2 separate regions of the Homo sapiens genome follow, and region 2 is linked to region 1. The links come from fine-mapping of genetic effects on gene expression. A gene starts in region 1. The other region holds a variant in brackets. All regions are shown on one strand. Distances are from middle to middle. Region 1 holds the start of LRRC61 (leucine rich repeat containing 61). Region 2 overlaps ZNF777 (zinc finger protein 777).

Region 1 (15,712 bases):
CAGAGTGGCTGCTGCTCTGCAGAGGCTCCCCCTGGCTTCTCCCCTCCACCCCGGAGCTCTTGGCTACCCTGGTGGGGTCCACGCACAGACCCCTGGGGCTTTGCAGGGGACTTGGGGAGTTCAAAGAGTATTCAGACACTCTAATCTCCTTCACCTTGTACACGAGGACTTGCTTCCAGTGGTCAATGTCGGTCGGCCCCCATGGCAGGATGGCCTCAATCTTCCCCTTGAAGCAAGGGTCCAGCAAGGTGGCCAGCACAAACTCCTCGCGGTAGAAGAGCTTGTTGAGCTGACAGTCGGTGCAGAGCTGCCGGGCCAACCCCTCAGCCAGCTGGATGGCTGCGCCCCTCTCCCCGACACTCTGCTCCTGAAAGTGTGTGTGAACCTGCTCCAGGAAGATGTGCAGGTAGCGCAGCTGGGGCAGCACCTGGCTCAGAGAGGCCTGTGCCGCACTCGCCTCGCGGACCACCATCTGGAAGGGCTACAGGAGCTTGCTGAGGCTGTCTGCCGGGCTCCAGAATGTGGCCGACAAGGCAACACCAGCCTTCCCCAGCTGGTGCCTGCCCTTGTACTCTTGAAGGGGCTGCTGCTGCTCCACCAGCCACTCCAGCAGGTGGTAGGCCGAGACCCAGTGGTCCAAGAGCTCCTCAAAGGGCTGGTGGGCTAGGAGGCTGCGCTGGCGCTGGAGCTGGGTGAGGAGTCCCTGGGCCTCCACAGAGCCTTAGAAATGGCTGCAGGTGGCCCTGGCAGTGCCCAGGATGATCTGGACACTGTGAGGGTGACACAGAAAGTTTCTCACCAGGGAGTCGAGGCAGTGGGCGAAACAAGGGATGGGGGAACAGCCCTCACCCTTGGCCGCCTGCTCCAGGCTGGGGCAGCTGCTCGATACCAGGAAGCCTGCCAGCAGGAAGCTACGGCCCAGCCACAGGCTGGCCTGCTCCAGCATCTGCAGCTGCCAGTCCTCCGCGGCTCCCTCCAGGGGCAGGCCTCGCATCCAGAGCAAGGTTCCCAGCATCAGCCCTTGGAACTCCAACCAAGCTCTATCCAAATGCAAACGAGGGCAGCTGGGGGAAATCACTCAGGAGCCTACATGCTTTGTCTGAGGCACTACCCCTAGAATCTCCAGCTTTCAAAAGTGGCCTGGACAGGGAAGTTGTTTTCCTTTTTAAGAAGGACAGGTAATCATAATATTTCCCATGCTGGAGTGAAATGATTAAGCATGAGGCCAGATGACGGACCCAACCCACAGCCACTACCTTCTGAGGGAGGAAATTCCTCATGGGCAGGCCAGGCTTTACTCACATCTTGTTTCCTCACAGCCCACTCTTGGGACAGGGTGCTGGGAAGTGTCCCAAGCAATGGGTGGCGGAGACAGGCAGAGAGTGTGGCTGGGGGACCGCTGCAGACCTGCGGCTCCCACACTCACCCCACCCAGCTCCAGGCCAGTGCGATGGGACTGATTCGCTCCCTTGGATACCGTACCTCGGTCCCCCGTCTCCCGGGTGCCCACAGCACTAGCTGTGTCACCGATACGTCCGTGCATCTTAGCTTTTATTCCCCTTAATGTTGTTTGTGCTGTTGTCTACTTTAATCTCGGTCCCTCACTCTTTACTCTTCTCAGGTACTGAGCAACCTCAGGGATAAGTCGGCAGAAGCTCCAGGCCTGCATAGCAGGAATACTTCTGGTTGTTTTTCTAACCACGAAGAGCAACTATATGGAGGACCCAGCCTATTGAACTACCTCATGTTTGCCAGAGACTTGGCTTTTCTGCCACAGTGTCCTCCTGAAACCCCCCGACCTTGAAAATGTTTCACGGGAGACTAGGTTTCAACTGGATAGCATCAAGACTTGATCTCTGGCTAGTGGAAGATTGAAAATTAGACTAAGGTGCAGAGACACCAAGGGACACCACGGTTAGGTGAGGGTTTCCTAATCCTAGGGCATGGGACTTGCTTCACACACCAGGTCCGTCCTTCACTGGACTGTGCTAGGCCTACCATCCACAACAGAGGGTATGCGTGTGTATTCGTAAAAGACGTGACTTGGGAACGCTAAATTTTAAGACCAGTGCCCCTGTACCCATCCTGTGCTGTCCAGGGAAGGATATATGAAGCAAGAACTAAAATTCTTAACGTTTCCAAATTCTTGGGTTCAAGGGAGCCCCGTAAGAGAGGGCCTCTTCATGTGGTGTGCACAGCCAGCGTCCTGCCCTGCTGCAGCGCTGATTCAGCATCACGGTAACTAAGGAGAAAAGGGGGCTTCATTTACACGCTATAGGATCACCACAAACCTCCCTTGCTGGGCTAGAATGGGACAAGCACGATAGAACGTGTTCAGGGGTGCACATCTGATCCTGGGTTTGTTTCCCCCTGACGCTGCCCCCTCTAGTTCCTGTATCTGTCTGGACTTTGTAGCAGTTGGTGACTGCTAGGTGGCCTAGTTTGTGTAACTATACTGTGTTGGTCTTTCTCCATGTTTTTTTGGGGTTTTATTGTTTACAAACTTTTTTGTATTGAGAGAAAAATGGCCAAAGCATCTTTACAGAAAGTTCTGAACCAGGCAAAAAGGATGTAAAACATGAGTTTGGGGGACCCCCATATTGAAGTAGGGATTTTGAACTATCCTTTCTTTGTGTTCCCCTTCCTCTATTTCCTATTTTGGACCAGATCTTCTGCCCTAAAAACTTGACTTCTACCGTACCTTCTTCTCCATTCACCTACCCCAAAAGAAAACCTACATACCCACACACGCATATATTGAATTCTCAGGCTGTCTCTGCAACTCTTAAATGATGTATGAGAACAGCCTGAAGAAGTCAGGAACCCTCCATCTCTTGTTCCAAACCTGAGTCAATGTGGTTCACCCCAAACACTTAAGACACTGCTTTATTGGGATGGATCAAACCTACTTAATCTGTAATCTCAAAGAAGGGAGAAGCAACCGGGGGCCTTCCACGTAGAAGTGGGGTCAGGAGACCAGGCAAAGGAATATGAGTATATATCTAAGTCACTTAGGAACTTTTACGCAAGTGCAAGAAACTTTTTTTTTTTTTTTTTGAGACAAGGTCTTGCTCTGTCGCCCAGACTGTAGTGGAGTGGTACAATCTTGGCTCACTGCAGCCTCAACCTCCCAGGCTTAAGCGATCCTCCCACCTCAGCTCCCAAGTAGCTGGAACTACAGGTGTACACCAACACACCTGACTAATTCTTTTAATTTTTTTGTAGAGACAAGGTCTCACTATGTTGCCCAGGCTGGACTCCAACTCCTGGGCTCAAGCAATCTTCCTTCCTTGACCTCCTAAAGTGCTGGGATTACAGGTGTGAGTCACCACGCCCGGCCCGGTGCAAGAACTTATGTCAAAGTGGCTACAAGATTGTTTAAAAGGAGACAGATGAATGTAACCCCATGTTTACTGCTAGAAACCAAAGCTTTATGTGAAATCTTGAATTTAGGGGCAGGGAGGGAGGGTAGAAAGGCTTGTACCTTCCCTGATCCCTGCCCCTCAGTCCTGAACTGCAGGAGACCAGGGCCCCTTGGGCTTTGGTTACTCCATCTCTGGGGTGCATCTATTGGATGGCTGATTTTTCTGTACCAGGTACTTCCTTTCCCATTTTCTAATCACTTTGCAACACACATGCTGACCCTTTTCACTTCCCTTCTCCTTTCCCTGGAAAGATATAATGAATACATAAAGACTTACTGGTACTGAAACTCAAAAAAAAAAAAAGATAAAAAAGATCTGACAATGAGTGATGCTAAACATTACTCACCAGGGTAATGTTTAAAAAGGGTCACCAGAGATGGCAGGGCTGCCTATAACAGGTGACGAGATGGCTAAGAAGGCTCAAGCAAGACTCTGGCCAGAAAGAGGAGCTCCTCCCAGCCAGAAGAACCTCAGAAGGGTTAAGTGGCAACAACTTCAAGTCCATCTCGCAAGAACTTTCAGCCACCAATAAATCCAAGAACTGAAGGCCTACTGCAAGGTGGCGCTTGTGTAGGGGCTAGGTAAAGCTGCAAAGGAAACACAGGCTGCTGTCCTGGGCCCACAACTGCTCTTGGATGTCACACTGGAGGGGACTTAACTCTCACTTCATGATTGAGGAAACTGCAACCCCAGAGTGTGAACATCCAGGCCTCCAGAGGCCATCTGCAGAACGGGGTCACCCTCCAAAGTATTTTTTTTTTTTTTTTTTCAGACTGGGTCTTGCTCTGTCACCCAGGCTGGAGTACAGTGGCATGATCTACCTTGTTGCAACCTCTGCCTCCTGGGCTCAAGTAATCCTCCCAAACTCAGCCTCCCAAGTAGCTGGGACTTCAGATGTGCACCACCACACCCAGCTAATTTTTGTGTTTTCTGTAGAGACGGGATTTCACCATGTTGCCCAAGCTGGTCTTGAACTCCTGGGATCAAGCAATCCCCCTGCCTCAGCCTCCCAAAGTATTGGGATTACAGGTGTGAGCCACTGCACCCAGCACACCCCAAAATCTTCATCTTAAGACCTACCCAGTTACCCCAGGACACCAATCTTGTTCTGTTTCCCAATTAGCTTTGTCTCATCATAAATGCTATACTCTGCAGATACTCTTGATTCACTCAATCATTTAACAGAAATTCATCAAATGTCTACTATGAGCCAGCACTCTGCCTTCAAGATATGAACAGAGGAGAGTAGCTGCCTGGCTGGCACTTGGGGCTCAGGATGAGACGACAACCTAGAAATGGGCTCATCATTAGACCAGGGGGAAAGTGGGGTATGGTGCTATGAGGCGGGGAGGGATCCCTGGGGGGCCCCCGGGCTGACCTACTGAGAAACAGGGTCTATTACACTGAAGAGCTTAGACCCGTCTTGCAAGGTGTTGTTTACCTTAGGCTATTGCTTCACAATCTTCAACCCTCGCAGGCCCGTCAGGTAGATCTGGGATTTTGTGTCATCACTGGTACAACAGTGACACCACCATGTTCTCTTCCACAGAAGTACTTTAGGATGACAGTGCAGCTGGCACTGTTGAGAGCCAACCTTGAATCCAAATGAATCTAAAACGTAAATTTTAAAAAGAAAGTCATTGATAAATTTCAGTACTTTATAACTAAGAAGTTACTTGTGGCCAGGTGTGGTGGCTCACGCCTGTAATCCTAGCACTTTGGGAAGCCAAGGTGGGTGGACTGCTTTGAACTCAGGGGGTTGAGACCAGCTTGGGCAAGATGGCGAAACCTTGTCTTTACAAAAAAAATACAAAAAAATCAGCCAGCTGTGATGGCCTGTGCCTGTGGTCCCAGCTTCTTGGCAGTCTGAGGCAGGAAGATGGCTTGAGCAGGGAAGTGGAGATTGCAGTGAGCCGTGATTGCACCACTGCATTCCAGCCTGAGCAACAGAGCCAGACCCTGTCTCAAAAAAAAGAAGTTACTTGTGACACACATCACCACAGCTGACAACACATTGGAGGCCTACAACCACAACAAGACAAGATTCCAAGGGCTTCTAAGCTGAAGCACGGCCTTTTGGGCTGCACGCCTGCCCATAGTCGATCATGTGGGCAGCAGTCAGGAAAGCGCCCTAGCCAGGCCACATGGGAAGCAGGCACATCCCTGGGAGGCAAAAGGGAAAGCGGGCCAGGCCGGGGTGACGGCAGGGCGGGGTGATGGCACAATGCATGGAGGAGACTGTGGGGAGAGCTGTTCAGGAGGTGGCCCATGCCTAAGCCTCAAGTGGAAGAGGAGGAATGATGGAGAGCGCCTCCACAGTGAGCCTCTTTCCTCATACAGGTCCATGTGGGCTATTTTGGGGCAAATCTTCAGGCAAGTTTCTAGAGAAACTGAAGGAAAACACCAGAGGGGGCTGCCCAGGTAATGCTGACAATACAGGGAGGTGAGAGGATGAGCAGATCTCAAAGGTGACTGAGAGGCAGAGGGGAGAGACAAGGAAAAACCAAAGTAAAGTGAAGTTAGGGAAACCAAGAAAAGACTTTCCAAAAGCAGTGGTCAGCGGGGTCAAAGGTCCCTTCAGTGGGCGGTACAGCAGGAAGTGGGGGAGAAGCAGGAACCGGGAATGCTGGAGGTGGGGATGGGAGGGAAAAGGCTTGGCTCTGTCCCTAAACAGAGAGAAGGTGACCTGGGAAGAGCGGGGAGGCTAACTACACAGGGAAGAGAAGCTTCCTGGAGAAAGGGATCCAGGGCACAGGCGGTGGAAGGGATTGGCCTCAAGAGACCAGGAAGAACTCTCATTTTTCCTGACAGAGAAAGTAGGATGGGTCTGGTAGCAGGCAAGTCCTGGAGTGCTGTGCAGAAGGGAAGTGAGGCAGCTTATGCCTGAGAGCCAGGCATGTTGATTGCTCACGGGGAGCCGTACATCTGTAAAGGCAGCCAGCGGCTGGCTGAGTGATCTGGCTTAGCCTGGGCTGGGAAGCACCTCCGCACACTGGCTCAAGAAATTAGACCTATTCTTCTCGCTGCTCTCACCAAGCCTTTTCCCAAGTGCGTGCCCAGAAGGAAAGCGGCCACTCTTCTACTTCTCTTGTGCCTGCAAGAGAAGTAGAACCCCACCCTGGGCATTCCATGATTATGCCAGGCCTTTCTCACTCCGCCCAGTCCCTCTCCAGCCCCTCTGCTCTCAACTCCAGCACTGCAGGGGGACAGAGTGTCTACTCCACCCCCACCAGGCAGGGGATTTTAAGCACCTGCTGGGCCCTCAAGTCTCATCTTCCTCCACAACATCTGTGAGAAGATTGAAAGGTGGTGAGAGAAAGGGATAGGAGGAGATGAACGTGTGAAAGGAAAAGAGGAGAGCAAGCCATTGCATGTTTTGGGGTTTTGTCCCACACGCAAATTTGACTACTTATAAAGTCTAAGCAAGATGTTTTAAATAATAATCATGCATCATTAGGTTTCATACTGTGCAAAAAAAATGACACAAAGTGAGATCTGTTACAAACGACACGGCAGCACTCTGCTACTTTCTGGAAGCTTAGGGCTAACAATGGAGTCAGAGCATGGCATCCAGAGCCCGTCTCTGAGCACGGCCGTGATCCTGCTCCAGCACACGCCTCGGTTTCCTCGTCTACATTACGGGAATAGTAACAGCACCCGCCTCATGAGATTGTTAGTGTTAAACGAGTTAATTAATACCACAGTATTTCAGGGCAGTTCTCGGCACAGAGGGAGAGATGGGTAAGGGCTGGCTGTTCCGGAAGATTCTGGCCTCTCCCAGTGTGTTTCGGCGCGAGGGCACCGCTGGCCCAGCAGGTGGCCCCCCGGGGCCGGCACGGGCCCCGACAGCCGCCCCCTTCCCTGAACCTCGGCGGCCCAGTCCCCGCTTACCTGAGGGGTGGAGCCGGCAGCCTGCGGAGCCACTGGCCAAGCTGGGAAGTCCGGCGCAACTCCGCACCGCAGAGCCGGCGCCTCCTCGGCAGGTAAGAGCCGCAGCCCCGCCGCCCGCCGCCTGGCGGCCCCTGACCCCTGGGCCGCGTGCCCACCACCCAACTTGTTGGCCAGCGTGCTTCTCCCAGCGCCGCAGGCCTGAGCTCCCGGAACGCGCCCAGGGGGCCTGGCCAAAGGCCGTAGTGGGCGCTCTGGATTCCGGGATGCGCCAGGGGTTACTTCCGGAAGCGCAGCCTGCGGGGGTCTTCGCGCGCACCCCCCGCCTCGCAGTTGGTACGTTCCTCCTACCTGCGGTGCCTGAGTGCGCAGGCGTGGGCAGCGAGGCGGTGCGGCCGGAAGCGAAGGGGCCGTGAGGTCAACAGTCGGTAATCGTTTATCGGTGCGGCCTTAGAGAAAGGACCTCCAAGCCCTTGTTCAATACATGTTGGGTGGTGGTCACAGGTGCCAGTCTCCGGACGGATGGCGGCCTAGATTTCCTCCCGGACTCGGTGGCACCCAAGGCCCCCTGCACGCCGGCGCTGTGCGTGCCAGGCTGACCGCCCGAGTGCGACCCGGACCTCGTCCGCACGTGCAGATGGAAGGGGCCACAAAGACGATAAGGATCCAGGTCTCCCGCGTGGAAGGCTCATCTATCGGTCGGTTCAGGAAATCCACCCAGGGTGTCTCCTGGTGTTATCAGAAAGGGGTCCCGATCCAGGCCCTAAGAGAGGGTTCTTGGATCTCATGCAAGAAAGAATTCAGGGCAAGCCCATAGAGTAAAGTGAAAACAAGTTTATTAAGAAAGCAAAGAAGTAAAAGGATGGCTACTCCATAGGCAGAGCAGCTCCAGGGCTACTGGTTACCCATTTTTTGGTTATTTCTTGATTATATGCTAAACAAGGGTTGAATTATTCATGAGTTTCAGAGAAAGGGGTGGGCAGTTCCCGGAACTGAGGCTTCCTCCCCTTTTTAGACCATATAGAGTATTTCATGATGGTGTCATGGCGTCTGTAAACTGTCATGGTGCTTGCTGGTGGGAGTGTCTTTTAGCATGCTAATGCATTATAATTAGTGCATAATGAGCAGTGAGGACCACCAGAGGTCCCTCCCATTGCCATATTGGTTTTGGTGGCGTTTAGCCAGCTTCTTTACTGCAACCTGTTTTATCAGCAAGGTCTGTATGACCTGTATCTTGTGCCAACCTTCTGTCTCATCCTGTGACTTAGAATGCCTAACCTCCTATGAATGCAGCCTCATTTTACCCAGCCCTTATTCAAGATGGAGTAATTCTGGCTTAAACACCTCTGACACTGGGGCAAATGCCTGCTGCCTGATGACTCCCACAAGTCCTTAACACCTAACCCAGAGAACATCTGGGCCTGCATCCACTCTGGTGCTCTGCCACTCCTGCAGCTACAAATTGTGTGGGAGCCGAAGAAGTCATGTTCCCTGGACGAGCACAAAATGCCTGTTTGTCCCATGTTGGTTCCACATGTGCACCAAAGTGAACAACTTTTGTCTCCCTGGCTACCTTGAACTTCTTTCCACCTCCTCAGTTGGACATATTCAAGGGGCTGGCCCGGGGGCAGGCTTCCCTAGTCTTCCCAGGGGCAACCTCAGCTTTTCCCATATCTTTCAGATGACCCTTCTCCTGCCCCAAGCAAATTAATGCCAAGCCAGTCTAGTTCTCCAGCTTGGGCTACAGCTGGGACCCCTGCCCAAGAATAGTGATTTTTATCTTTACACTTTATCCAAGTTTTTTATTTTTATTTTTATTTTTTTGAGATGGAGTCTCACTCTCTTGCCCAGGCTGGAGTGCAGTGGTGTGATCTCAGCTCACTGCAACCTCCACCTCCTGAGTTCAAGCGATTCTCCTGCCTCAGTCTCCCAAGTAGCTAAGACTACAGGCGTGAACCACCACACCTGGCTAATTTTTGTATTTTTAGTAGAGACGGGGTTTCGCCATATTGGCCAGGGTGGTCTCAAACTCCTGACTTCAAGTGATCTGCCCGCCTTGGCCTCCCAAAGTGCTGGGATTGCAGGTGTGTGCCACCCTGCCCAGCCATATGCAAGTTATTTTTAATTTCAGTTGATCTCCATGCCTCGGAGATGGAAGTATTAGTTTCTCCATTATATGGATCAGAAAATTGAGACTCACACAGCATGTTACAGTAGGAAATGGCACTAAAAGAAAAATTATTCAAACAATTGTTAAGGTGAGAGACTTTATTCAAGAACAGCTGCAATAGGGATTATGCAATAGGGGCAAAAAAATCAGGCTTAACATCAAATACAAGGACAGGTGGAGATTTATAGTTAAGCAACAGGGTGGAAGTCAGCAGATGGAAAATTACTAAGAGGACACATAAAGGTTAGGGAGATTTTTGCTGAACACAAGCCGAGGTGATCAGATACCAAGGGTAGGGGATTTTTGCTGAACTGACTCAGCAGGATTCTTGCTAAAACTGAACTAAGTGAGTTAAGGACCAGCCCAGGGTCAGGGCCTAGTCAAAACGAGGACTGAGAGGAGCCTGACTCAAGTTTAGTCAAAGAGTGAGTTCTTTTCATGAGCTACCAATGATTTGAGTTGTATTGTCAGAGGTGTCCTAACTAGAGTGACACTATCCTAAATAAAGGCTGGGGAAGGCAAGACCTGCTGGGTTGCATTCCCAGGAAGTCAGCACTCTTGATCACAAGATGTTTATTGTTGAGGAAACAAGTTAATGGAAAAAGGCATTCTTGTTTTTGTTTTTGTTTTGGAGATGGAGTCTCACTCTGTTGCCCAGGCTGGAGTGCAATGCCACCATCTCGGCTCACTGCAACCTCTGCCTCCCGGGTTCAAGTGATTCTCCTGCTTCAGCCTTCGAAGTAGCTGGAATTACAGATGTGCGCCACTTTACCTGGCTAATTTTTATATTTTTAGTAGAGACGGGGTTTTGCCATATTGGCCAGCCTGGTCTCAAACTCCTGACTTCAAGTGATCCACCCACCTCAGCCTCCCGAAGTGCTGGGATTACAGGCTTGAGCCATGGCGCCTGGCCTGGAAAAAGGCATTCTTAATTTAAACTATATTTTGCTCTAAAGATAATAGTCCACTCATAAATTCTTTCTGAAATTAATTGCACAAGAGAATAACAATACAGATAGTCTGTCACAAGCCGATCACAAGCCTTTGTAATAAAATACACTATTCTTAGCTCTAATATCCTACACAAACAAGCATTACATTTGAGGTAGGGCGTTCTTCCTCTTGCTTCCTGAGGATACCCTACTCTAATAGATTAGTTTCTAATAAACCATTTAAACTTTACTGTACTTTGCGACTCACCCTAAATTCTTTCCTGTGCAAGATCCAAGAACCTGCCCTTGGGGTCTGGGGTGAAACCCCTTTTCTGGTAAGAGTACTGTTACATGGGATCCACACTATGGGCTCAGAGTTGGTCCCTTTCCAGCGTTAATCCAGAAACACTCTAAAACAAGGAGTTTCTTACTCAAAAGAGGGCAAAAGACCAGTCAGGGATGGATTGGCAGAGGAAGAACGGAAGGAAATGCTGATCTTCCTGTAGGTACAAAACTTGTCACTGCAGCCAAGCCAAGTTTCAGGAGGGTTGACCTAAAATCATCTCGTTTTGCTAGGTGTTTTACAAAGGATAAATAGGACTGGCTCCTGCCCCTAGAGCTTCCAGATACAGCATCCCTGTTTGCCCTGTTTGCAGGGGTGACAGAAAGTGGGAAGTAGCTACATTAGCTGCTAACTCTGTCTCGGGTCAGGGGAGAGGTTGGTAGGGTTAGCCCCAACAGTGTTTTAAAATGCAGAGTAATTGTCAAGACTGGAGTCTGGGCAAACAAACAATAAATAAATAAATACAAAGTAATTGGATGGACAAAGTGCTTTGCCTCCATCTTCCCAAAGTCAAAGGCACCTGAATTTGCCATCCTGCCCTAACTCTTCCTGGACCATTTCATAGCCTTGTGGAATGTCAGAGCTAGACAGACCCTTAAGAAGTTTGTTCTGGGCCAGGCGAGGTGGCTCATGCCTATAATCCCAGCACTTTGGGAGGCCGAGGCAGGCAAATCACCTGAGGTCAGGAGTTCAAGACCAGCCTGAGAAACATGGAGAAACCCCGTTTCTACTAAAAATACAAAATTAGCTAGGCATGGTGGTGCATGCCTGTAATCCCAGCTATTCGGGAGGCCAAGGCAGGAGAATCGCTTGAACCTGAGAGGCGGAGCTTGTGGTGAGCCAAGCTCACGCCATTGGACTCCATCCTGCCTAGGTAACAGAGTGAGACTCTGTCTCAAAAAAAAAAAAAAAAGAAGAAGCAATTTTACAAATGCTGTGCAGTGAATAAATTTCAGAGTCACTCGACTTGGAACCGGGGATTTTCCCAGTAGAGTGTACACTTTAACTCTTAAATTGCCTAAATTGACAAGACTTGCTCAGTAATAGACTGGGTAAAGATTAAATCCAAATTTTTGTCTACAGCCCAGGTATCTTCCTACTTCAGCAGTGTTTTGGGATGTAGAAGAACCTGGGAAACTTGTTTGAAAATGCAGAATACAGGGCCCACACCCATTATGTGGGTCTGGAAGAAGCCCAGAAAATGACTTTTAAAATAAACCCCTAAGGGAGTGAAATGCATGAGAATCACATGGTTTATGTAAGCTTTTGAGAAACACTGATCTAAAGCAAATTTTTGGGCTCACGGGCCCCCAGAAGAATCTTGAAAAACTCTGTATGTTCTTTGTTTTGTTGTTGTTGTTGCCATTGTTGTTGAGATGGAGTCTCACTCTGTCACCCAGGCTGGAGCGCAGTGGTGCGATCTCGGCTCTTCGGGTTCAAGCGATTCTTCTGCCTCAGCCTCCCGAGTAACTGGAACTACAGCTCTGCACCACCACGCCTGGCTAATTTTTGTATTTTTAGTACAGATGGGATTTCACCATATTGGCCAGGCTGGTCTTGAACTCCTGATCTCGTGATCCGCCCACCTTGGCCTCCCAAAGTGCTGGGATTACAGGCGTGAGCCACCGCAACTGGCAACTCTGTATACTTTAAAGTTGGCATCTTTATTAGTTTTCCAGGACTGCAGTAAGAAAATACCACAAACAGGGTAGCCTAAAACAACAGAAATGTATTGTCTCACGGTTCTGGAGGGTAGAAGTCTGAAATCAAGGTGTTGTACTCTCTCTGAAAGCTCTAGGAAAGACTCTGTTCCATGTCTTTGTCTTAGCTTGTGGTGCTCCCAGAAATCCCTCGTGTCTTTTGGCAGAGATCAGACCACTCCATAATGATCTCTGAGCACAGACAAAACAAGAACATTATCCAAACCGCAGGAAACCTCCCCATCCTGGCTGATACAAATGACTAATGCTTTTCACCGTCATAGCTTTAGCCTCACTCTATTCTTCTCGTCTTCTCCATAAGAATTATCTAAAATATACACAATTATAGAATTGCCCCTACTTCCCGACATCATCCCATTGAGAGGAAATCCCCATTTTCTTGCAACCTCCCCCAAATCTACTAAAACAAGCCCTGTCCTATAAAGAGTCCTTTTTAACACCCTCTTGTGAGACATCCCATAGTTCCTTTTGGTTTACTTTCCTCCTCCTTGCAAGGAGCCGATAAACCCAACCCCATTCAACTGCAGATGTGTTCTTGGTGGTCATAGATTTAAAGAGAAAAGTCATAATCCATTTCCTCAGCTACTGGAATGGATTCAACAAAATTCAATATCCATCTGGATAATAACTAGATTGTAGTGAAATAGAAATAGATGCCTATTTTCTTAGCATGATCAGATATATCCACCTCAACCTCAAAGATAGTATAATGCTTAAATGGAAAACATGAAATGTATTCCTGTTGAATTCAAGAATAAGATAATCACATATACTATTACCATCATCATTTAACGTTGTTCTGGTGGTTTAGTCAACACCACTAGTTAAGAGAGAGAAATTAGAGGCTTATTAACTGGAAAATAGGTAAAATTATCATCATTTCAAGTGACTTGATTGCATAAGTGAGAAACACAAAATAATTAACTGACAAAATTTACTACAGCTAATAAAATAATTCAGTAAGGTGTGTGGGTTTAATATTAATAAATGGGAATCAAAAGCCGCCATCTATGCAAACAACCACCAGTTAGAAAATACAAAGGAAGGCTGGGCGCAGTGGCCTACACCTGTAATCCCAGCACTTTGGGAGGCCACCAAGGCAGGCAGGTCACTTGAGTCCATAAGTTCGAGACCAGCCTGGCCAACATGGAGAAACCCTGTCTCTACTAAAAATACAAAAAATTAGCCGGGCATGCTGCACGCCTGTAATCCCAGCTACTTGGGAGGCTGAGACATGAGAATCACTTGAGCCCAGAAGGCAGAGGTTGCAGTGAGCCGAGATCACGCCATTGCACAACAGAAGGAAACTCAATAAATAAATAAATGAAGGAAAGAAGGAAGGAAGGACTCCAGCTGTTTACTAACAATAAAAAAGATTAAACATCAAGGAAAATGCTTAGCAGAAAATGTACAAAATCTATGTGAAAAAAAACCAAAACTTTTAAGCATCACTAAAGACAACAAAAAGAAGACCTAAATAAATGGAAAAGCTTATCATGTTCAGGGGCAGGAGGACTAAATATCTAAAAGATATCGGTTCTCCCTAAAATAGGCTACCAGTTTAACGTAATCCCAGGAAAAATTCCAAGAGGAACTTTTAAGAACCAGATTCTTGGCCAGGCGTGGTGGCTCATGCCTGTAATCCCAGCACTTCGGAAGGCCGAAGTGGGCAGATCACGAGGTCAAGAGATAGAGACCATCCTGGCCAACATGGTGAAACCCCGTCTCTACTAAAAATACAAAAATTAGCTGAGCGTGATGGCACGCATCTGTAGTCCCAGCTGCTCAGGAGGCTGAGGCAGGAGAATCGCTTGAACCTGGGAGGCAGAGGTTGCAGTGAGCTGAGATCGCGCCACTGCACTCCCGCCTGGCAACAGTGAGACTCCGCCTCAAAAAAAAAAAAAAAAAAAAAAATAACCAGATTCTAAAGTTCAGATGGAAAAATAAACAAGAATAGCTAGAAAAATTCAGATAAAGAATAGTAGTGGCTGGGGGTTGGTAGGAACAAGCCCTGACACATATCAACATATATTTAAAGCTACTACAGTCGAAACACTATGTATGTGTGCAATGTATTGACAGCCAGATTAATGAAATGGAATAAAAAGTTTAAACAGGCCCAATGTATTGCTTAAAGAAAGTATGGTACATCCACATGATGGAATATTAGGCATTCATTTTTGTTGTTTGTTTGTTTTTTGAGACAGAGTTTCACTCTTGTTGCCCAGGCTGGAGTGCAATGGCGTGATCTCGGCTCACTGCAACCTCCACCTCCCGGGTTCAGGCAATTATCCTGCCTTAGCCTCCTGAATAGCTGGGATTACAGGCATGTGCCACGATGCCCAGCTAATTTCGTATTTTTAGTAGAGACGGGGTTTCTCCATGTTGGTCAGGCTGGTCTCGAACTCCTGACCTCAGGTGATCCACCCGCCTCGGCCTCCCGAAGTGCTGGGATTACAGGCGTGAGCCACCGCGGCCGGCCTATGCATTCGTTTTTAAATATAAGGAAACTGTGTACTGATATGGACTGACTTTTCAGGATACATCGTTAAGTGAAAAAAAAAAAAGTATAGTGTTGGGAGTGTTTGTGTCTGTGTTTTTATTAAAAAGGGGAGAATACACACATGTATGAATATACATAAGCATGTGTATGTTTACTTCTACATGCTAGAGTCTCTCTGGAAAAGACATACAAGAACTTGTAACAATGACCCAGGGAGGGGAACTGTGTTGTTGAGGGGGCAAAGAGGGTGTTTTCACTGTGAGCTCAGTTTTACCTTTTGAATTTTATTTCATAGGAATGTCCTTCCTATTCAAAAACTGTAATAAAATATGTTGAATGCTAACAACGAATTAGTATATAAAACGTACAATGTATTTTCCTTATAATTTTTTACTTCTTCCATCCTGAGCATGTTTTCTGTATTTTTTGGCTATGTGCATATCCACTTTGGAAGTGCTGTTCAATATTGGGTTGTCTTTTCCTGATTGATTTGTAGGCGTTGCTAGCATCTTCGGCTGCATATCCTCTTCCAGGTATATGGATTGTGAAGATCCTCCCCAGCTGTAGCTTGCTGTTTCCACCTTAATCATGTTTTAGCAGGACAGAAGTTTATCACGATGACGTTCAATTTTAATGAATTTCGATTTTAATGTAGTTCAGTTTGTCAGTCTTTTATAGTCATTGCTTTTTGTGTCCTTTTAGAGAAATCTTTGCCTACTTCATCACTTGT
Region 2 (15,712 bases), 870 kb after region 1:
CAGGCCCCTGCTGGACTCCCCCGAGAAACTCTGTTCCAATCCCGCGTTCTTCCTCCCAAAGAAATTCCTTCTTTGTCTCCCACCATTCCCCGTCAAGGCTCCCTGCCCCAAACTTCCAGTGCTCCCAAGCAAGAGACTTCTGGCCGGATGCCACATGTGCTCCAGAAGGGACCCTCACTCCTGTGTTCTGCCGCTTCTGAGCAAGAGACTTCTCTCCAGGGCCCCCTGGCTTCCCAGGAAGGGACCCAGTATCCACCCCCAGCTGCTGCTGAACAAGAAGTCTCCCTTCTCTCCCACTCCCCCCACCACCAGGAAGCCCCCGTTCACTCCCCTGAAGCTCCTGAGAAAGACCCCCTGACCCTTTCCCCAACAGTTCCCGAGACTGACATGGACCCGCTGCTCCAGAGCCCGGTTTCCCAAAAGGACACCCCTTTCCAGATCTCTTCTGCAGTCCAGAAGGAACAGCCGCTCCCCACGGCAGAGATCACCCGCTTGGCTGTGTGGGCTGCCGTCCAAGCAGTGGAGAGGAAGCTGGAGGCCCAGGCCATGAGGCTACTGACCCTGGAAGGCAGGACGGGGACAAATGAAAAGAAGATAGCCGACTGCGAGAAGACAGCCGTGGAGTTCGCGAACCATCTGGAGAGCAAGTGGGTCGTGTTGGGGACCCTGCTGCAGGAGTATGGGCTGCTGCAGAGGCGGCTGGAGAACATGGAGAACCTGCTGAAAAACAGAAATTTCTGGATCCTGCGGCTGCCCCCCGGCAGCAATGGAGAAGTTCCCAAGGTAAGCACATCCCAACTGGGGCTTCCCAAGGAAGTGATCTGAATTGGAGTGTGGTTTAGGAATGTAGTGTAATATGAAAGAAAGGGGTGGTTGATAAAGGAAAAAATACAGTGATCCCAGTTGCTAGGACATGCCAAAATCAAATTATTTCTCCTGTTGATGAGAGTATAGGCTAGTACAGAAATGCCCCTGGGATCGGGGATTGTCAGTTTGGAAGGGTGTTCAGCAGAGCTGTCCATGGTGTGAGAGACTACGAAGGCAAAGCGAAGGCCGATGAGAGCCGTGGAGAGGCTTTACCATCAGTCACTGAGGGTGCATTAGCTTCACAATTGCAGCAGAGGAAGGAGCTTGGGTTAAACATCACAAGGATCTGTCCCACTCCACATTTTTATGAGTTCACTTATAAGCCATGTTAGTGCCAGGAAAACTGATTTCAAGATGTTTCCTTTCAAAAGCTAGAGAAGTTAGGTTTCCATATTATTTTCCAGAAGGTTCTGAAAGAGCTTGAGTGTGGACTGGCTTGCTTTCTCTTCTTCAGTGCTGCTGCCCCCTTTCACAGCCATATGTAGGGAGAAAACAGACTCTGTTCTCTAGCCCGGTATGTCTCAAATGTTACTGTGCACATGGATCTCCCCGGGATCTTACTGAATGCAGAAGCTATTTAGTAGGTCTAAGGTGGGGTCTGAGCAAGTTACCTGGTAGCACCATTGCTGCTGGTCCACAGACCATGCTTTAGAGCTGCAAGAATTATATCCTGAAGGGGAGGAAAAGGATCCGACAAGACAGGCCCCTCACTCTTTGGGGCCAGGACAGTGGCCAGACTTCTAGAAAAGTCCTAGGTGAAGGCCCAGAGCCAGGAGTTTGGGCCTTGGGATTGGCCAGCCGTGGGCCTGTCACTGCCTTCCAGCGGGTCTGAGCCGAGTTATTGTGTGGTTTCAGGTCCCTGTCACATTTGATGATGTTGCTGTGCACTTCTCGGAGCAGGAGTGGGGAAACCTGTCTGAGTGGCAGAAGGAGCTCTACAAGAACGTGATGAGGGGCAACTACGAGTCCCTGGTTTCCATGGGTAAGGAGAAGCCTTCGCTCGCTGGGGGCTGCCTGGACGCCAGCTCAAAGTGCATTCATAAACTTAGGGAGTTCTGAACCCCAGCAGAGCCAATAGTTGCAAGCAAGGAGAACAGAGTTGTAGAGATCACAACAAATTAAAGCAAACGCCCTCATATACCCACACACATCAGTGCGGCCCAGGCCAGAATGGCTTGTAAATTGAGACCCCACTCTCAGAGAAGCTGCTGGGGCAAGGAGGAGGAGAAAGACCTAGACATCAGTGGTCTCTCCGTCATCATATTTTTCCCCATGGGGACCCCTTTTTAAATAAATTAGTTTGTCCAGCAAACTATTATTAAGGAAGGAAAAAAGAATGAAAGGAAAGTGTGCTGAGTGTCTCCTGTGTACCAGCCACATTTGAGGTGCTGTACAAGTATCATCTCCTTGGACCTGCACAGCCAAGATGTTGCGGAGGCTAAGACAGGTGTTCACACTCCTGTTCGATGATTCAGGTGCCTGAACACTGAGGCTGTGATCAGGGAGGTTAAATGCTTATTTCATGGAGATCTGCCTTACCCCGAAGTCTGTAGATTCTTGTGATTTTAATTAAGAATATTTAACGATGAAAACCTGGAAAAATATACTTTACTTACATATATATATGTGTGTGTGTATATATATCTGTTTCTCTGATATGGAGAACTTTTTGGGTATATACAAAAAAACGTTATCTTAAACATTTAAATGTGTTGTCACATAGAAACTTTGATTCCAGCTAGAATTGATAATTTTATACATACCTTTCCATAGGATACATTCCCTTCCTTTTAAAATTCTTTTTTCTTTTTTTAATTGTGTTTTTTAATTGTGAAAATTCAACAATTTAAATGATTTATATAATTAAGAGCAACCACCACCCATTCACCAGTACCACTCCCCAGAGGTAACCACCATGAACACTTTGGCCTGTGTTCTCTCTCATCTTTTTTTGCATGTGCAGATATAAGCATGATACATGCACTGAGGCACATGCAGTTTGGGGTTTGCACAGAGGGGCCCGTTTACTTATTTTACCTAATGTAGGGGGATAGAGAGTGTTCCATGTCAGCACACGTAGGACTCCTTGGAAAGACAGTGCAGTGTTCCACGTGAACCATTAGGGCTTTTGACCTGTCTGCTGTTGCTGAAGAGTAGGTTGACTGTTACAAAGTGTTATGATAAACATTTCTGTGTATTTGTGCACTTCTGTGTGTTACAGTAGGACAGATACTAAGAAGTGGGATTGCCAAGTAAACAGGATGCACATTTATAGTTTTATGGCTACTGCCTGGTGCCCTCCAGAAGGCTGAGCCAGTTGATATTTCTGCAAGGGTGTGTGAAAATGCCACTTCATACCCTGGCCTGAGCTGATGTTCTTCTATTTTAAATATTAGCCTTTTTTATAGGTGAAAAATGATACCTTATTTATTTATTTATTTACTTTTTTTTTTTTTTTTTGAGACAGAGTCTCGCTCTGTTGCCCAGGCTGGAGTGCAGTGGCACGATCTGGGCTCACTGCAAGCTCCGCCTCCCAGGTTCATGCCATTCTCCTACCTCAGCCTCCCGAGTAGCTGGGACTACAGGCACCTTCCACTGCTCCTGGCTAATTTTTTTTTGTATTTTTAGTAGAGACAGGGTTTTACCGTGTCAGCCAGGATGGTCTTGATTTCCTGACCTTGTGATCCAGCCACCTCGGCCTCCCAAAGTGCTGGGATTACAGGCGTGAGCCACACGCCCAGCCTACTTCATTTATTTAAATATGTATTCTTTGATGATTAGTGAACTTGTGCATCTTTTTTTGTTTGTTTGTTTGTTTGTTTGTTTTTGAGACGGAGTCTCGCTCTGTTGCCCAGGCTAGAGTGCAGTGGCGCGATCTCGGCTCACTGCACGCTCCGCCTCCCGGGTTCACACTATTCTCCTGCCTCAGCCTCCCGAGTAGCTGGGACTACAGGTGCCCACCACCGTGCCCAGCTAATTTTTTGTATTTTTAGTAGAGACGGGGTTTCACCATGTTAGCCAGGATGGTCTCGATCTCCTGACCTTGTGATCCGCCCGCCTCGGCCTCCCAAAGTGCTGGGATTACAGGCGTGAGCCACTGTGCCCAGTGAACTTGTGCATCTTTTTATATATTTATTGGCCATTCATATTTCTTCTATGAATTACCTATTTATAGCTTTGCAATTTTACTAGTTATAGAAGTTCTTTATGTATAACTATGGATATTAACCCTTTGCCATATGTCAAACATGTATATATATGTATAATATTTCCTCCAAGTTTCTTCATCTTTTAACTTTATTTCCAAAGAACTGCAGACTTATTTTATGTAAGAAAATCTATCGATATTTTATGGCTTTTAGATTTTTATCAGGATTAGTTTTTTGTTTTTTTCTTTTTTTGAGACGGAGTTTCACTCTTGTTGCCCAGGCTGGAGTGCAGTGTGTGATCTTGGCTCACTGCAACCTCTGCCTCCCAGGTTCAAGTGATTCTCCTGCCTCAGCCTCCCGAGTAGCTGGGATTACAGGCATCCGCCACCACGCCTGGCTAATTTTTTGCATTTTTAGTAGAGATGGGGTTTCACCATGTTGACCAGGCTGGTCCCGAACTCCTGACCTCAGGTGATGCGTCTGCCTCAGCCTCCCAATGTGCTGGGATTACAGGTGTGAGCCACTGCACCCGGCCAGGATTAGTTTTTTACCTTACAAAATTTCAAATATCTTCTGCCTTTATCATGAAAACCTGGGCAGGTTTTGACTACCTCTGAGCAACACGATCCCTCTACCCCCCGCCACACACACACACCCACACCCCCACACCCACAGTGGGCTCTTGGGAAAAGAAGGGGAGACTTGGCGGTTTTCCATTGTGGTCTCCAGTCGAGGAGCTGCTCCTGGAATCACGTGCCCACAGATGATACCTTAACAACATCCAGTGCAACCTCATCCCAGAGCATATTTTTTTCCCTTTCTTCTGCCTAGACTATGCAATTTCCAAACCAGACCTCATGTCACAGATGGAGCGCGGGGAGCGGCCCACCATGCAGGAGCAGGAAGACTCTGAGGAGGGCGAAACGCCGACAGATCCCAGTGCTGGTGAGTGGCTAAGGGTGATCTGCAGCTCTGCATTCTAGATCTTTCAGTACTCAGGAAGCGCCAGCATGAGGCAGCACAATCCAAGGTAGGCCCTGCCAGGATATGTTAGCAGGAAGGAGGCCCGCAGGTGCCAGGACCTGCTTTGGAGTGCCATGATCACCAGTGGCCCAACTTGTTGATTAATGGGAATGCCGTTGGGTTCACTGTCTCAGGAATTTTTTGACATGACCAAGTGTCACCTCACTCTCTGTAGGAAATAAAGCAAGAAACTCAAAGAAAGGCAGTCCCTTGTCAAGCAGTCATTAGTGCTTAAAATTCCTGGAACTTCCGAGAAAAGGGCCACATCCCTGAGTCCTGCAGGTGGTCAGTGGAGGGATAAGGGGCAGGCATGGAGTTTACCAGAAACATCCTACATGCACAGCTTCAGCAGGACAGCATGTAGGTGGAGTCAGCAGATATGCACCCAGCGAGACTGACCAGAGGCCGTGTGGCTCATGTGCACACTCTGGTGTGAGGCTGACTGTATCTGAGTATAGTTTTTCTGCTTACTGGGGGTGGGATTTCAGTTGCTTGATCTTTTCAGAGTCTCAGTTTCCTCATCTATAAAATAGAACTGGCACTAATATCTAACCGTAGGGCCTGGCACAGTGATTGGCACATAGCAGTGGCTCAGTATACACCAGCCGCTGTTGGTGTGCCTGGAGGTCGCCCCATTCACAGCAGCTGGGTCAGTGGCTCACACACTCACACTGCAGGCGCTCTTGTGGTGCATGGTTGCTCTCTGAAGCCCCTGCTTTGGAACTGCCTTTGGACTTGCATCACTTATCTTGATGGTCATCAGCAGAAGCTGATCCTTGTCCTTCGTGGGCAGGTGTGGCGTGTGAACATAGCTGAGAGTTACTGGCGATCATGTCTGCTGAAAGAGGATGATCCACCTGGAGAACTCTGTTTGGGGCCAACAGCCAGGTCTTGTTAGGAACTAATGTCGTTGATTTGGGGACCTATCAACTGGCTCCAAGCAGATGTTCTAGGAACATGGGAGTAATGTTGGCCCCATGTACTGAGTGGGAAGGTGACTTCTGGGAGAGACAGAACCCTGTAAAAATACAAGTGCTGGCATGTCCCAGAGAAATCCAGTGGTGTCACTTTCTATGGATTTGCCTAAAATTTAACTCGAGGAGAGGGGCTAATCCTGAGTTCCTTCCTGCAGACAGAAAAGAGGAATTTAAAAATTGATGAGGATGAGGGATTGGTGACAGTGTGGCACATGGCAGGGTGAACTTTTGGTTGAGGAAAATCAGTCTGAACCTTAAAGGTTTGAGTGGCCACATCCAAAAGCAAAGGTCAAGTAGAAATAGAGAGATTCTAGGTGGAAGAAATGAGAAAGAAGTGTTGCGAGGCAGAGAATGAGAAGTCAGGAGAGATGATTTGTGGTTAAAATCCTAAAATACAATCTGCTGTCCCAACGGGGCCTTGCGGTTCAGGTGCTGCTCTCATAGAATTTTCTTGGAAGGGCTGGATGCAAGAGCATGGATCCCCTTTCTCTGTCTGCTTTTCCCTGCCTCATCACAGATGGCCTCCCACAGAATGGGGCCAGAATTGAAAAGCAAATAACCCAAATCCATTCGGTCCTGGGCTGGGTTTGTTCTGACACATGCACATCCACAGGAGCTTCTGCTGGAAGAAGCGGCCTCACAGAGGCCTCCTTGTGTGGCTGAAATGTGTCATTTGTTCCAGTCACCATCTCCAGGCCCTGGGAGTCTGCAGTGGGAGGAAAGGGGAGGACATAGGTACCGCTGCCCCTCAGAGTGGGCCGCACACTCGCACCTCTGTGCTAAACCAAAGGCCCCGGCCTCGCCATTGCAGGCTGGTTCTGCAAAACTGCAGGTATCAGAGCCGTAGCACTCCAGTGGTAACCTGTCCATCCAAGCGCCTTCTCCTTTTGCAGAATGGCAGCAAATCCAGCCATGGGCCAGACCAAAAGTATGAGACAAAGGGGTAAAAGTCCAGAAAATTGAGACTTCTCATAATTCCAAATATACCAAACATGACAATTTTATGAATTGGCTAAGTAAATTCATTCAATAAACTATCATTTAATGGTTGGCTTCCCAAGGGCAAAGAGATGTAAAGATGATTCAGATGTCAACCCTCCAAATACTCAGAACAGGGGCTCCCATTCATTCACGGCCTTGAAAGGGTGGCCATGGAGGCCAGAGAAGCCAGGCACCATCTTCACCTAGCAAGTTGGCAAAGAGTAAAGCGAACCAGAAGGCATGGCTGAAATCTGTGTGCTCAGACATTGCCACTCAGAGGGTTCATCATTTCAGTCTCTCGAGAAAGCAATTTGATGCTTTCTAGTCTTAAAATATATATGTATTCTTTACTATATATATATATATATATATATATATA[TATAG/G]TTATATGTATAACTATATAACTATATGTATAACTATATATATAACTATATGTATAACTATATATAGTTATATATATATATATATATATATATAGTTTTGTTTTGTTTTTGAGATGGAGCCTCACTTTGTTGCCCAGGCTGGAGTGCAGTGGCGTGATCTCTGCTCACTGCAACCTCCCACCTCCTGGTTCAAGCAATTCTCTTGCCTCAGCCTCCTGAGTAGCTGGGATTACAGGTGTGTGCCACCACGCCCAGCTAATTTTTTTACTTTTCTTTAGTAGAGATGACGTTTCACCATGTTGGTCAGGCTGCTCATGAACTCCTAATCTTAAGTGATCCACCTGCCTCAGCCTCCCAAAGTGTTGGGATTAAAGGCATGAACCACTGCACCTGGCTTATTTTTAAGTATATTTTAAATATTTTAAATGTTCTTACATTTGACCTAATAATTTACTTCCTGAGAGTCTAGCAGGAAAAAGAATCCAAAATATAGATTAAGATGTACAAATATAAATCACAGTATGATAGACTGTTACACACTAAAATCACATTTATGAAGAGTTTTGAAACCATAAGTTTCACTCATATGTTTATTTAGTTCATCAGATCTCTTTGGTAGCAGGTACTGTGTCAAGAACTATATTAACCCTGAGGCCCTTGCCCTCAGACTTAACTCCTGTGGAGCGACTGACATTAACAACCAAAACACCCCCCACAGATGAAAGCACGGGCACCAGCTGTGACAAAGCTGAGACGCAGAGCATCCAGGGCTGCGAGACACACGACAGGGAAGGTGCCCTTGAGTTTGGGAAGTCAGAAAGGCCTCTTGGAGGATGTGGAATTTCTAGTGGAAACCTGAAGACTAAGTAGGGCTCTGGTTGCTCCGTAGAGAACTCACTGCAGGGGGGATGGTCTGGAAGCTAGGAGACTACTTGCAGGTTCTTTCCGTCTTCCAGGTAGGAAACCTTGGCATCGCCCTGAGAGAGAAGTGGCTGTTGTCAAGATATATTCTGGCAGTGGACTAGGAAGGCCTTAGGGATTGGTGGGTGTTGAATAGGAGGGCTGGGGAGGTGCTAAGGGTGGCCCCCAGGCCTCTGGCTTAAGTAAGAGTAGAGGGAGGGTAATGTAAGGTTCAGATTTGGAGAAACACTGAGAATTCCGTTTTGAACACATTAGGTTTGAGATCCCTGTGAGACATCAAAGAGCAGGTGTTGAGAAAGCAGCTGAATAAAGGAGTCTGGAGTTCAGAACCGAGGTCTGAGCTAGAGACATCTGGCCTTGGCACATTTGGACATTTGGGTGTCGGCAGCAGAGTTAGATTAGGTTGCTCAGTCTGTAGAGGGGGAAGAGAGGAGAACACAAGCCATGCCCTGCAGAACCCTGGCTTTTGGGGCAGATTCGGGGATTTGGAATATGTTGTTCATGATGGGGCCCGGATGTTAGTATTTTTTAGCTTCCAAGGTGATTTTCATCTGCAGCCAGGGTGGAAAACCACTGTTGTGGAAAAAGAAGGAGCCAGAGGAATCACGGGAAACAGAAAGAGTGGCCAGAAAGGTAGCAGGAGAATTAGGATACTGCCTTGTTGGGTATTTCTAGAGAAGGATGCTTCCAGAAGGAGAGAGTATGCCCAACCGTGTCGTATTCTGCTGTGTGGTTTAGGAACAGGAAGACTAAAAAGGGTCCATTGGATTGCAAGCTAAAAGTCATCAGTGACCTTAGGAAGACAAACGTTGGTACCTTAGTGGAGGTGGCAGCCTGATAGTCAGTGGGTGAGGAGCAGGTGGGAGGCGAGGAAGTAGAGATGGCAGGTGCTGACAGTCATTTCAAGAAGTGTAGCTGTGGGGGAGTGGAAATATGGGACAGTTGGGGGGATTCTTGTTTGCCTAAGATGGGGATTGCTAAAGCTTGTTTGAAATGTTGATGGGAATGATCCAGTTGATAGGAGGATTAAGGATGTAGAAGTGGGAAATGTAACTATAGTGAGGTCAGTGATGTAAGCAAAAGTAGATTAAAAAAAAACTGGATGGAAACATACCAAAGCCATATTTCTCTATGTTTTTTAAAATGTTCTGATGTGAGCATGTATTACTCCTTATTCAGTAAAAATATATTTTTTAAAACAGTACACAATGAAAGATTGAGTTGAGCAGGGCAGATTGAACATGTATTTATTCCCACCTTCCCAAATCCTTCCTTTTTTTTTTGAGATGGAGTTTCGCTCTTGTTGCCAGGCCGGAGTGCAATGGCGCGATCTTGGCTCACTGCAACCTCCGCCTCCAGGATACAAGTGATTTTCCCGCCTCGGCCTCCCCAGTAGCTGGGATTTCAGGCATGTGCCACCACACCTGGCTAATTTTGTATTTTAGTAGAGATGGGGTTTATCCATGTTGGTCAGGCTGGTCTTGAACTCCCAACCTCAGGTAATCTGCCCGCCTCGGACTCCCAAAGTGCTTGGATTACAGGCCACCACATCCGGCCTCCCAAATCCTTCTAAAACAAGAGTGAAGAAACTTTTAAAAAGAAAGGAGAAACAGCAACGAAGTTTTTCAGCCCTGAAGCAGGTGGATAGATGTGGTGAGCTGAATCTGAAATTGGTACTGGGGAAAACTGAGAAGAAACCCAATTTGCACCCCCACACCTGCTTGGGGCTCAAGAGTTAATAGTACCAGAGACTCTAGGGATCCCTGGAAATAGGAATGAAGTGAGGCTAAACACAGACAGCTGGCTGAACATCTTTTAAAGAGACCGCTTAAAGCTCCCCTCAGCTCCCATTGCCTCCCTCAGTCCCTACTGCAGGCATCTGCCTTTCCCTAGCCCTGATATGTGACAGGCTTATTCTCTGGGGAGGGTGCAAAGGAGGCTCTCTGGACATGGGCACCAGGCACAGTTGAGGGTGGGGCACCATATTGAAAACGGGAAGAAGGAGACTTGACGTGCAGATGTTGAGACCTCCAGCCTTCTTCCCTAACTCGACTCCCGAAATGTTGCCAACACCCAGAATTAAACCCACTGGGCAGGATATTTGAAGAGGCTTATCTGGAGACTTTTGGGACCAGCCCAAGAGGTTTCTGGGTAAAATGACTTGGCCAAAGCACCCTATGGGCCAAACAGAGTCCCATAGTTAGCAGGCCTCACCCAAATGCACTGAGCTCCCTGTTCTCTTGAGTGTCCCCTTTTAAGTCTCCGGGGACAACCAAGAATGAGAAGACATTTGGGAAAACTCTGTGGTGTACAGAGACAAGTAAAGAAATCAGAAAAAATACATTTAGAGGAACAGAGACCATGCAGAGAGGGAAAAATGTATATATGAATACTCACATGTAAAATCCTTAAATCAAATAAGTGAATGCATTCATGACACAAAAGTGTAATGCTTGTTTTTTAAAAAAGGAATAGAAAGGAACTCTTGGAAATAAAAAATGTAATAGTACAAATTAGAGACTCAGGAGCAGTGTTGGAGGATAAGCACACATCCCAGAAAATAAAGCTAAAAGAAAAGAAAATAGGGAAAAAAATAAAAATAAAGGATGGAAGGGAATAGGGAAAGAATAAGAAAACTGAAGGATGGAAGTCCAACATCCAGATAATAGGAATATCCAGAAAAAGAGTAGCAGAAACAGGTGGGAATTATCAACAAAATAATTCAAGAAAAGGTCCCGCCAATTAAAGCCGTAATTTTCTAGATTGAAAGAGCCAGCTGCCCAGAGCACTGGAAGAAAATAGACCTACACTTTCAGCACGGAATTTCAGAGCAACTGAGAACAAAGGAAATCCTACGAGCTTCCAGGGAAGAGAAACAGAGTCATGCGAAGAAATGAGAATTAGAATGGCCTCAGACATTTGTAACCACATTGGGAGCTAGAAGACAGTAGAGTAGTGCCTTTCAAATTCCAAAGGAAAATATTTTCCAACTTATAATTCAATGTCTAGCCAGACTATTTCGATTAAATATGAGTGAAACTGAGTCATTTTGAGATATTCAAGTCTCCACAAATCCTTTATCAAACTGGGGCAGGCGCTTTGCCAAAATGAGGAAGTAAACCAAGAAGGAGGCATTACAAACCCCAACTTGAGAGAGAGGTGGAGGCACTCCAGGCACACGGCCCAGGGGCATTCCGAGAGGTCAGCTGTGCACCTAGAGGCAGCCAGTCGAGTGGGGCACCTCCGCAGGTCCCAGAAATTTGTCTTCAAGTAGATGAAATGGATAAATACCCAATATATTTGAATGTTTGGAAAGGAGAGTTACACAGCAAGGTAAGGTTGGGGGAGTTTGGGGCTAAGTTCATGATAATTAGTCGTAAGCTGGGCAAAAGAAATAAGTGTCAGATCTAGGGAAAGCAAGAAGGTTTACAGGCGTAGGAGGCACTCACTGAATACTACAGAGTTTAGTTATAAATAACATTGATATAATCTAGCGAGGTAAACACCCAGTATTGATCCAACTAAAATTACAACAAAACTGTATTGGCAGGATCAGTTCGGAGGAGATGGTTCTGACCGTCATCCCTTGGAAGTCAATGGATGATGCTTAAAATTGAAAACTCAAGGAGTAGCAATATAAGTGTGTTACTTAGAGTTATGGAGGTAAATGACCAAAGAGTCAGCTGGAATCATTGAAGTGATTGCTTCGGGGAGCAGGAAATGGGGGCAGAGGAGTGGAAAAGAACTTTTTAAAAAATAAGTTTTGGGCCGGGTGTGGTGGCTCGCGCCTCTAATCCCAACAGTTTGGGAGGCCGAGGCAGGTGGATCACTTGAGGTCAGGAGTTTGAGATTAGCCTGGGCAACATGGTAAAACCCCATCTCTACTAAAAGTACACAAAATATGTATATATAGCTGGGTGTGGTGGCCCATGCCTGTAATCCCGGCTACTCAGGAGGCTAAGGCAGGAGAATCACTTGAATCCAAGGGGTGGAAGATGCAGCCCCGTCTCAAAAAAAAGAAGTTTTGAAGAACTGTTCAACTATGTTCCACTAGCCTATGTGCATGTATAACTTTAAAAAAAATTTTTTTTAATTAAAAAAACCTAACAGTATAGCCATGCGAAGATTGGAAAGTCAGTGTCAACCAATATTTATTTACTTTGAGCTGGTAGAGAGAGTTAATGTGGCAATACTGGTTTTTAATTTCACAAAGAAAAAGTACAGAGAGAGTGAAAGTCCCCCATAGTTTTCTCTCAAGAGTCAGCAGTTTATTCATTCCAATTTTATGTGCATGTGATTACATACACATGGCCTTAATTATATAAGTAATACATATACACATTATCATTGTAAAAAAATCAGACAATATAGAAGTATTGGCAAGTTTCTTTTTTCAATACTATATCATTGACATTTTTACGTCAGAATATATAAATTTGTCGTGTTCTTTTTCATAGCTGACAGTAGTATTCTGTGTATTGATTTCATAATTTATTTAAATACTCTGCCATTGATGTGCATTTAGGGTGTTCACAAGTTTCAGCGCCTCAGTAAAGATTATTATAAATAGATCTTCATGCACTTGTCTGGAATTTATTTAGAAATGGATTTTCTGGGTCAAAGGATACACCCACTTAAAAATTTAATAGATCCTGGCAAATCCCTTCAAATCACTTGTGCCAATTTACATGCCTTCACCCTTCTAAGCATGAGAATGTTTGTTTCTACACACTCTTACCAGTAATAGGTATTATTTATCTTTTTATCATTTGCCAAAGTAATAAGTAGAAAAAACACAATATTTGGATGTTTTTATTTGACTTTCCATAAGGGTGATGTTGAGCATATTTTCATACCTTTATTGATTACTAGTATGTCTTACTACTCTGTGAATAATCTTTGTTGTTATTCTTTTGGATTACTCGTCTTTTTATTATTGATTTGTAAAAAGCTTTTAAAATATTAAGGATATTAGCTCTTGTCTAACAGTATGTATGTGAATACTTTTCCTAGTTTGTGGTTTACTTTTTTTTTTTTTTTAGACAGAGTCTCACTCTGTTGCCCAGGCTGGAGTGCAGTGGCGCTATCTCAGCTCACTGCAACCTCCACCTCCTGGGTTCAGGCTATTCTCCTGCCTCAGCCTCCTGAGTAGCTGGGGTTACAGGTGCCCACCACCATGCATGGCTAATTTTTTTGTATTTTTAGTAGAGACGGAGTTTCACCATTTTGGCCAGGCTGGTTTCAAACTCCTGACCTCTGGTGATCCACCTACCTTGGCCTCCCAAAGTGCTAGGATTACAGGCGTGAGCCACCACGCCTGGCCTGTGGTTTACTTTTATATTTTGTGTGTGTGTCTGTGTGTGTGTGTGTGTGTGTGTGTGTGTAATAGCAGTTTTTAACTTTTATGTATTCAAATTTATCACTTTTTTTTTTTTTTTTTTTGAGACAGAGTCTCACTCTGTCGCCCAAGCTGGAGTGCAGTGGCGCAATCTCGGCTCACTGCAACCTCCGCCTCCCGGGTTCAAGCGATTCTCCTGCCTTAGCCTCCCGAGTAGCTGGGATCACAGGCCCCTGCCACCAGGCCCAGCTAATTTTTGTATTTTTTAGTAGAGACGAAGTTTCACCACGATGGCCAGGCTGGTCTCGAACTCCTGACGTCAGGAGTTTGTCCTGACGTTACCCGCCTCAGCCTCCCAATCTGGGTTTCGTATCAAGTGTAGAAATATTTACTCAAGCTATTTTATTTAGTAAACACTATGATCACAGATCTTAGGTCTGTGAGCATCTCAAAAAAAACCTATAAAAATATTTGAAACACAAAATAAAATATTTTTTGCCCTAGAAAACAAAAAGAAAATTGCTAAGTCTAAGTAATTAAATGCTTATTTTAACTAAATGTCTAAAAATATAGCATTATATCACTTTCAGTAACTAATAAATTCAGTCTTCACAAAGGTTTAATACATTTGAAAACAACTTATAGGATTTCCCCCACCCCACAGGAGTTCTTATGAACACGAATTATTACAAAGATTAAAAACCAATCACAGATTAAATAAGTTTCTTATAGCCAAATGATGGCAACAGCAAGCTACAAGAATCCTTTCAAAACAATTTATAGCAAAATTTATAGTTGATAAGAGTTGGGCACATTTAATATGTTTGGCACGAATAACCGAACATCCTCCAGAAGGAATATCTGAAGTGCCATAGGGTTACAGATAGCCTGTTCCTCAGCTTAAAGTTGTAAAACTTAGGTATGAATTTCTTATTTATACATAAATTTTTTTGTTCATCAGGAGTTTGATGTGAAATATGTGAAGTAGCTTTTTTCCCTTTCTAATCAGGAAGCCAGTTGTCTCCATTCCTTTTAAACTCTTCCCCACTGGATTGAAATGTTACCTTTTTCATAAACTATATTCCCACAATGTATGTGTCTTCGATTAATTTTTTAAATGGGAGAACAAATTCCTGCTTATAAATGAATGCAGCTTGGTTGTCAATACTCTTTGAAAAGTTGTTCGGGGTGGGGAGACATTTTTGGTGGGAAACGCTGGCGTTCCCTGCTGTTTAGCAAGTGGAGGGGAGGTGAAAGTGTGTACATACTGCCTGTTTTGAGGGAGGAAGAGTAGAGTATGTGCCACAAAGAGGAGCAGGCGAATGCCTAGAGCTCAGGGAGGAGCACAGCTACGTCCAGCTGAGAGCACTGAAGAGGCTTGATGGAGTGGTGGACACCCGAGTTGGGTCTTGAAGTAGGGCCAGGTATTGAAGGCACTCGTCTTCAAGCTGAGGTACCCATGCTCTTGAGGGGACAAGGGTACTCCCCAAGAGGGACATAATACAGGTGGCTTTGAGGGCACAATTTCCAGTCCTTAGTCCATCTCTTCTTGTCCAACTGATCAGCCAAAAGCACACAATGCATGTGGTCCCTGAAATGTGGCTTCTCATCTACATCTCCCATTATTTAAAAAAAAAAAAAAAAAAACAAAAAAACAACAGGCTGCTGGGCATGGTGGCTCATGCCTGTAATCGTAGCTCTGTGGGAGGCCGAGATGGGAAGATCACTTGAGTCCAGGTGTTTGAGACCAACCTGGGCAACATAGGGAGACCTCGTCTCTACAAAAACTTTAAAAATTAGCTGGGCATGGTAGCACTTGCCTGTAGACCCAGCTACTCTAGAGGCTGAGGTGGCAGGTGGTTTGAGCCAGGAGGTTGAGGCTGCAGTGAGCCATGATCTCACCACTGTACTCCAGCCTACGCAACAGAGCAAGGCCTCATCTCTTAAAAAACAAAACAAAACAGTCACTTCCTGCCCATCTCCATCTTACTATAAAGCATTTCTCAGAGGCATAAAGCCCCCAGGTCACCAAACAGAAAACATTCAGAATTTTAAGATACATGTCCTGCAGCG

The links.
Region 2: its variant is fine-mapped to the expression of LRRC61 in follicular helper T cells (Schmiedel 2018, PIP 0.95).

The regions. Positions count from the first base shown.
Region 1 is chr7:150,315,165-150,330,876 of GRCh38, reverse strand. LRRC61 (leucine rich repeat containing 61) reads right to left here and starts at 7,522. Exons shown (of 3, transcript NM_001142928.2): 1 at 7,317-7,522; 2 at 4,867-5,036. It overlaps ACTR3C (actin related protein 3C), which reads left to right and starts at 7,332. Exons shown (of 8, transcript NM_001164458.2): 1 at 7,332-7,408. It also overlaps the pseudogene ZBED10P. RefSeq lists enhancers at 6,693-6,762, 8,083-8,142, 8,193-8,302 and a silencer at 7,153-7,472.
Region 2 is chr7:149,440,248-149,455,959 of GRCh38, reverse strand. ZNF777 (zinc finger protein 777) reads left to right here. Exons shown (of 6, transcript NM_015694.3): 2 at 1-783; 3 at 1,723-1,849; 4 at 4,848-4,961. Among named protein-coding and RNA genes, the nearest start is that of ZNF777, 13 kb to the left of the region's middle. The variant TATAG/G (reference allele first, on the strand shown) is at 7,377.